Homo sapiens: one gene and its partner. The protein of the gene in region 1 purifies or fractionates together with the protein of each later gene. This does not show direct contact. Each region holds a gene or a part of one and is shown on either strand. Other genes may lie near its edges. The genes, in order: KDELR3 and INTS12.

Evidence for each region.
Region 2: the proteins of KDELR3 (region 1) and INTS12 purify together in Homo sapiens (affinity purification with mass spectrometry; one large-scale study listed by BioGRID and IntAct). This does not show direct contact.

Annotation. Positions count from the first base shown.
Region 1 is NC_000022.11:38,470,868-38,474,689, forward strand, and holds part of KDELR3 (ER lumen protein-retaining receptor 3), read left to right. Parts: intron 1-3,655; coding exon 3,656-3,756; intron 3,757-3,822.
Region 2 is NC_000004.12:105,698,498-105,702,319, reverse strand, and holds part of INTS12 (integrator complex subunit 12), read left to right. Parts: intron 1-2,048; exon of another isoform or gene 2,049-2,305; 5' UTR 2,306-2,314; coding exon 2,315-2,470; intron 2,471-3,822. UniProt on the Homo sapiens protein: Component of the integrator complex, a multiprotein complex that terminates RNA polymerase II (Pol II) transcription in the promoter-proximal region of genes.

The DNA of each region.
Region 1 (3,822 bases):
GCACAGTGGCTCACACCTGTAATCCCAGCACTTTGGGATGCCAAGGCGGGTAGATCACATGAGGTCAGGAGTTCAAGACCAGCCTGGCACGTGGCGAAACCCCGTCTCCACTAAAAATACAAAAAAATTATCTGAGTATGGTGGCAGGTGCCTGTAATCCCAGCTACTCATGAGGCTGAGGCAGGAGAATCGCTTGAACCTGGGAGGCGGAGGTTGCAGTGAGCTGAGATTGCACCATTGCACTCCAGCCTGGGCAACAAGAGCAGAACTCTGTCTCAAACAAACAAACAAGCAAAACAAAACTGAAGATCACAAGGGTTCCCAAAGTGCTAAGGAAAATGTGAGTAAAACCCAGGGGACTGGCAGGCTGAGGATGAAGAGAAAAGAGGGGTAGGGGAAGGCCCAAGCGGGTGACCAAGCGTCCCCCACCAGGGCTGCCTCCCAGGCAGTCCTTCGTGGGGCTGAGGGCTTCTCTGTCAAAGTCTGTGTGAGGGCTCAGTGAGATGAACATCAGGCCATCCCAGAGCTGGCCTCAGGTCAGTATGGCCTCCCCCAGTGGGGTTCATTACCCACTGCCAGCCCCACTGTTGCCCTCACCCCGGCTAGTGCACGTGCGCGCGTGCTAGACCCCCCAGAGGGACTCAGGTTCTCACTGAGCACTGTGTATTCCTCAGCTCAGTCCTGCCACTCTGCATGAGGGGCCGTTTGGCAGGTGAGGAATGTGAGACCGAGGCTCGCCCTAAAGCCAGCACATTCTCCAGAATGTTAGGGACTTCAGGGGTGTTCCTTCTTGCTCATTAAAAATGTTCCCCCAGGCTGGGTGCAGTGGCTTACCCATGTAATCCCAGCACTTTGGGAAGCTGAGGCAGGAGGATCACCTGAGCCCAGGAATTTGAGACCAGCTTGGGCAACATGGCAAAATCTTGTCTCTAGAAAAAATATAAAAATTAGCTGGGCATGGTAGCATGTGCCTGTAGTCCCAGCTACTCAGGAGGCTAAGGTAGGGGGGTCATCCGAGCCTGGGAGGTTGAGGCTGCAGTGATCTGTGATTGTGTCACTGCACTCCAGCCTGGGTGACAGAGTGAGACCCTGCCTCACAAAAAAAGAAAAAAAAATGTTCTCCCACCCCAAATGTCTGGAACCAGAGGGATGGTTAGAGAAGGCACAGTTCAGGGGTACAGGGGAACCAGACCCTGAATTAGACAGCACAGTAGTTCCCCCTTATCCACGGAGGATATGTTCCAAGACTGCCAGTGGATGCCTGAAACCACGGGTTAAACCAAACCCTATATATATACTGTTTCTTCCATCTGATAACCAAGACTGCTGTCCGGGCACAGTGGCTTACGCCTGTAATCCCAGCACTTTGGGAGGCCGAAGTGGGCAGTCACTTGAGGTCAGGAGTTCGAGACCAGCCTGGCCAACACGGTGAAAACCCATCTCTACTAAAAACACAAAAATTAGCCGGGCATGATGGTGGGCGCCTGTAATCCCAGCCACCCGGGAGGCTGAGGCAGGAGAATGACTTGAACCCGGGAGGCAGACGTTGCAGTGAGTCGAGATCGCACCACTGCACTCCAGCCTGGGTGACAGAGTGAGACTCTGTCTCAAAAAATAAATAAATAAATAAAAAGTGGCCAAAGGACACTAAGGAGCATGACAACAAAATGCAGCATGGATTCCGGGATGGAATCCAGGAATGGAAAAAGGGCAGCAGTGGGAAAACTGGTGAAATCAGAATAAAGCCTGGAGTTCAGTCAACAGTGCTCTACTGATGTTGATTTCTTTGTTTTGATAAAGTACTGTCACTAAATACGATGTTTTTTTGTTTTGTTTTGTTTTGTTTTTTAAGACAGAGTTTTGCTCTTGTTGCCCAGGCTGGAGTGCAATGGCACGATCTCGGCTCACTGCAACCTCCACCTCCTGGGTTCAAGCGATTCTCCTGCCTCAGCCTCCCAAGTAGCTGGGGTTACAGGCATGAGCCACCACACCTGGCTAATTTTGTATTTTTTAGTGGAGATGGGGTTTCTCCAAGTTGGTCAGGCTTGGTCTCAAACTCCCAACCTCAGGTGATCTGCCCGCCTCGGCCTCCCAAAGTGTTGGATTACAGGCATGAGCCACCGCCCCCGGCCCAAATACGATGTTAACACTAGATATAGCTGGATATGTGGGATTCTCTGTACTGTCTTTACAACTCTGTTGTAAATCTAACATTCTTTCAAAATAAAAAGTTAAAAAAAGAAAGAGACCAAAGTGGGTCAAGAAACAGCATTTAGACTGGGCGCGGTGGCTCACGCCTATAATCCCAACACTGAGAGAATGAGGTAGGAGGATCACTTGGGCCCAGGAGTTTGAGACCAGGCTGGGCGACATAGTGAAACTCTGTCTCTACAAAAATAATAATAATAATAATTAATAATAAAATTTGCCAGTCTGATGGTTTGTGTCTGTAGTTACCAGCTACTCGGGAGGCTGAGATAGGAGAATTGTTTGAGTCCAGGAGATAGAGGCTGCAGTGAGCTATGATTGCACCACTGCACCCCAGCCTGGGAGACAGAGTAAGACCCTTTCTCTAAAAAGAAAAAAATAAAAAAGAAAGAAACATCATGGAGAGTATGAACCCTTTTTTGTCAACTCAGTGCATCCATGTGCATCATATGTGTACACATAGGTGTCATGTGTGTACATGTTCACAAAGATATGGAAGGATGAACACTAGGGGTTTGGAATATTTTTATCTTTGCATCTTTGTATATTGTTTGATTTTTGTTTTGCAAAGAGTAAATATAGGCATAACTTTTGTAACTAGAAAAAAGGCTTTTTGGCTGGGCGTGGTGGGTCATGCCTGTAATCCCAGCACTTTGGGAGGCCAAGGCGGGCAGATCACTTGAAGTCAGAAGTTTGAGACCAGCCATGACCAACCTGGCGAAACTCCGTCTCTACTAAAAATTCAAAAATTAGCCAGGCGTGGTGGCAGGCACCTGTAATCCCAGCTACTTCGGAGGCTGAGGCAGGAGAATCACTTGAACCCAGGAGGCAGAGGTTGTGGTGAGCCGAGATCACGCCACTGCACTCCAGCCTGGGCAACAGAGTGAGACTCCATCTCAAAAAAAGAAAAAAGAAAAAAGAAAAAAGGCTTTTTAAATCTTACAGTTTGAAAAATAAAATAGAATGCTCCCCTGGCCCTGAACCTTCCTCTGCCTGCTCTGGTCTCCCTGGTGAATCAACACCTTGTAAAGTCAGTGAGTTGTTCCTCCTAAGACTGAGCTTTGGGGACTGTCAGTGGAACTCTGGGGGTGGAGTGAAGAGAAGCCTCAACAACCCCCACCAAGCCCGACTCACACCACCCCCGACATCCTCCCCAGAGCAAGAGCCCAGGCAGGCACACGCAGGGGGACTGGGAACTCGGTGTTCGTGTCTTTATTTGGAGACTGGGAGACAGATTACAGTTTAATGAGAGGAACGACGACTCAAGTGATCCGATGGGAAGGGTGAGTTTCCTGGCCCTTAGGGAGCGACAGTGCCCTGGACAGGAGGTCTTTGAGTGGGAGTGGACACTCTAGAGGCCTCCCCAGCTCCAGGCTGTGCACCTCTTGAGGGTGGGCAGGCTTGGGAGTCTGTGTCCTCATTGTCTCCTGTCTACCCTTGGCCACAGGCATCTCTGGGAAGAGCCAGATCCTGTTTGCTCTCGTCTTCACCACCAGGTACCTGGACCTGTTCACCAACTTCATCTCCATCTACAACACAGTAATGAAGGTGAGGGGCTGGGTGATGATGGTTGGGGGAAGCCACCAAGCCCCCACAAACTGTGAGGTAGCCTGC
Region 2 (3,822 bases), on another chromosome or scaffold:
CTAAAAAATACAAAAAATTAGCCGGGTGTGGTGGCGGGCGCCTGTAGTCCCAGCTACTCGGGAGGCTGAGGCAGGAGAATGGCATGAACCCGTGAGGCGGAGCTTGCCATGAGCCGAGATCATGCCACTGCACTCCAGCCTGGGCGACAGAGCGAGACTCTGTCTCAAAAAAAAAAAAAAAAAAAAAAAGAAATAGAAATAAATTAAAAAGTTAATATTTTTTTCTCTGTATTCCACCATGGGGACCACTGGGTCAAAGGGCCATGTTAGTAATTTAGGGGAGGGGTACAAAGCCTGTTAAGTTTTATAATGGCAAGATTGCATAAAAAGAACTGACTCCAAGGTTCCAACTGGAATGTTGGTGTTGATGACTTCCGCAGTCTTGTAATCTAGGTGCTGACTCTTGTCACCTAATCTGTAATGTAAACCTCTTACCTGTGATTGTAGAAATACATAGCAATAAATACTTGGCTTTCATTTTTCAGCATAGAAATTTCAAGAAATGGTTTTTCTAATATATTACAAGGGTTCTTTTAGGTGTCAACCCTTTGGTCAGCACCCAATAAAATAAATTGTTTTATAACAATCTGGATAAGTAAACTGCTATTTCCTTTACCTATATGAAATAAAATCAGTAGAAAGATTAGTAAACTGTCACAGGAGTGGAATTTAAAGAAAAAAAAGAGATTAGGCTGTTACCCTTGTATATGCTGGGGGAATGGCAGGTTTACCCTTTTAATCTTGGAAATTTTATTAAGGAGCTATTTTTTCCTCAGAACGTACATGGTGACCAGCCCCATGAGTAAATTTTAAAATAATTTTTCTGTACCTATCATTATGTAGAGGTGATGTATATAATAATATAATTTTAAGAAGTGACAGAGGCTGCTTTTCAATTTTGTTAAATTCTTAGAAATACAACAGTTTGAGATAAGGTTACTTTTTCATTATAGTACTGGCCTTTGGATTCCTTTCCATGGGTGATTCAGATGATATTTTAGTACAGTACAGAATTCGACAGTAATTTTGTAGTTATCAGGTAGATAACTAATACCTTCCTGGGAACTTAAAAAAAAAAAAAAAAAAGCCTAGGGATGTGTATGTGTGTTTCTTGTCAGATGTGGAGAAGGATGAGGAGTGAAGCTGGAGGGGAGGGGACAACAAAATCCATTTTCAGATGTGCTTTCATATGCTAGGATTCAACCTACAGCAAGTTTTAATGGTGTTATAAACCCCTGAAAATGGGAGATAACTGTGGAATTGCTGACAGTTCCCTAACTATAGCAATGCAAGTGTGCTGCATTAATACAATATTAACCTCAAGGATAGAAGATTTCAAGCCATAGTATATTGATCAAAGGATTGAACACAAAGAATACATTTTTATTTTGATAATTTCTTGCCTGGAGAGGTCTTTGAAAAAGTGACAACCAGAAGCAGAACCACATGATAGCATTGGTATTAACTAAAAACAAAACTTTTTAGTATTGTGGAATTTCATAAGCCTTTGATGTATATCTTTATCCATCTTGGCTATTTTTTAAGCTCTTTAGGACACAAAGCATCATAGGCTCTGTGTGTGTGTGTGTGTGTGTGTGTGTGTGTGTGTGTGTTTTAAGTAGATATGATATTATCCCTCAGAGACCTTACTTTTAAAAATAGGTTAATGCATGAGATACCACAATCTAAATGTGATCAAATAAGGTTATCATTAATATGTTTTCTGAGACATTTAGGGTTGGGGCAGAGAACTGAAGAGGTGAGTTTAGAAAAAAAAAAAAAAAGAGTTGAGGTAAAAGTGGCAGCAGTGACCATGATAGCTAATCACTTAATATACCTTTTCACCATTGCCCTCTTACGATAGCCCTTACACACACAAACACCTGCACACTAAGTCTTCCCTTGTGTTATGGAAATAAGGTTTGAGAGAAGAAATTTTGATACAGAGTAAACTTGACGTAAACCCATCAAGTTCTATGTACTGAAACTGCGAAGTGTATCTTTTAAAACACAGTTAGGAAGGAGTTCTGTGGCAGGGAGAGGCCTACCTGGATTTAAAACGTTACCATCGATATGGATACACAGAAAACTGATACTGCTAGTTGTTTCAGGGGGAAGGAACTAGATAATGCCTGTCAGGAATAAGAAGGAAATTTACTTTTATTTGTAATAACTTTTTGGTGATTTTAAATTTTATATCATGTGTACAGTATTATCTATTACAAATTAAAAAACAGAAAAGTAAAACTTTAACATAGATAATTGTGCATTGTCTTCTAGATTACTTTCTCTTTTTTTCCTTCAGGCGTTTGCAATGGCTGCTACTGTGAACTTGGAACTTGATCCCATTTTTTTGAAAGCACTAGGTTTCTTGCATTCAAAGAGTAAAGATTCTGCTGAAAAGCTAAAAGCACTGCTTGATGAATCTTTGGCTCGGGGCATTGATTCCAGTTACCGTCCATCTCAAAAGGTACTTGAATGAATAAAAAGCTTGGAGAGAGTTTTGTAAGGCCTGTAGTACTACATTGATAACATATAGACCATCTCAAAACAATCTCTGCCGAAATAATCTTTCCTTGTAGCATGAAGAAATTATATTCTTTATTTTCTTTTTTCCCTTCAAGTTTTCAGAGAACTGTTACACCACATAGAAAAATCAGCTGGGGGTGCAGGATATTCTGTTCTACTACTTTATGTGTATATGAATTCACTTGTTTACGACTTACTTTAATTTCCGATTCTTTGTGATCAGAATTTTTTTTAAGCTGCTGAATGTAACCACAACTTACTTCTAATTATTGCCTAATATTTTAAGGATTAAAAAAAATCAAGTAAAAGGACAGATCTTTCAACAAAATAAATTGAATATGGGTAGGATAATTTAAGAGAAAAGGAGGTATGGATGAACTCTGAGAACTGTGTAGCTCCTGTCTTGATAATAACAAAGCAGCCAATGGCAGCTTTATGTGAAAAGAATATATGTTTTGATACCAAACACACCTGTTTTAAATCCCACTTAAATCTTATAATTGTGTGATGATAATAGACAACGTATCTTGATGTCCCAGGCACTTTTCTGAGTAGTTTATGTGAATAATTAATTTTAATTATGATAATGATCCTTTAAGATAGATAACTGTTTTCTTCATTTTACATAAGGAAACTGAGGTACATAGAAACTTCATTTCACTTAGTCTGTTTATTGGTAAAATGGGGATAATAAGAACTACTTTGCAGAGTTGTAAAAATTGAAGGAGATCCAGTAAATGAGTTACCTAGTGTAGTACCTGCCTGGTACATAATAGGCTGTCACTGAATGACAACTCTTATTATATTCCCTAATACCTACTAAGACATTCTATCAAATCCTTCTAAGCTCTGACCCTCAAACTCCAAATCACTCAGGTCTGTGGACTTAGATCCCAAACTGAGAAGGAGAAAATAGAACATGACTAGCTCAAGTCTAACCAGAATCTGAAGCTCAAGAGAGGATCTAGTCCCAGGCTCAGAGCCCAAGTAAACACTGGCATTTTGTCCCCAGCCTTCTTTCAATACTAGGTCTAGTACTCCGAAGCCTTTTTATTGTATTTTGAATAGCAGAACCATTGTGACTTCATTTCTTCTATCCATTCTCATTGCAGTAGGTTCAGTGAGTTCAGATCGACCAAATCAATATGGCTCTACAAAACATACTACCAAATTCATTCCACTGTGGGTGTTGGTATTGTCCAGATAGGGAAACCTATTATTACTAAAGAAAAAAAATTGTTTTAATGGGGTTCTAAAATGGAAGTTTATCTCTTAAAGAACATGAAAAATTTG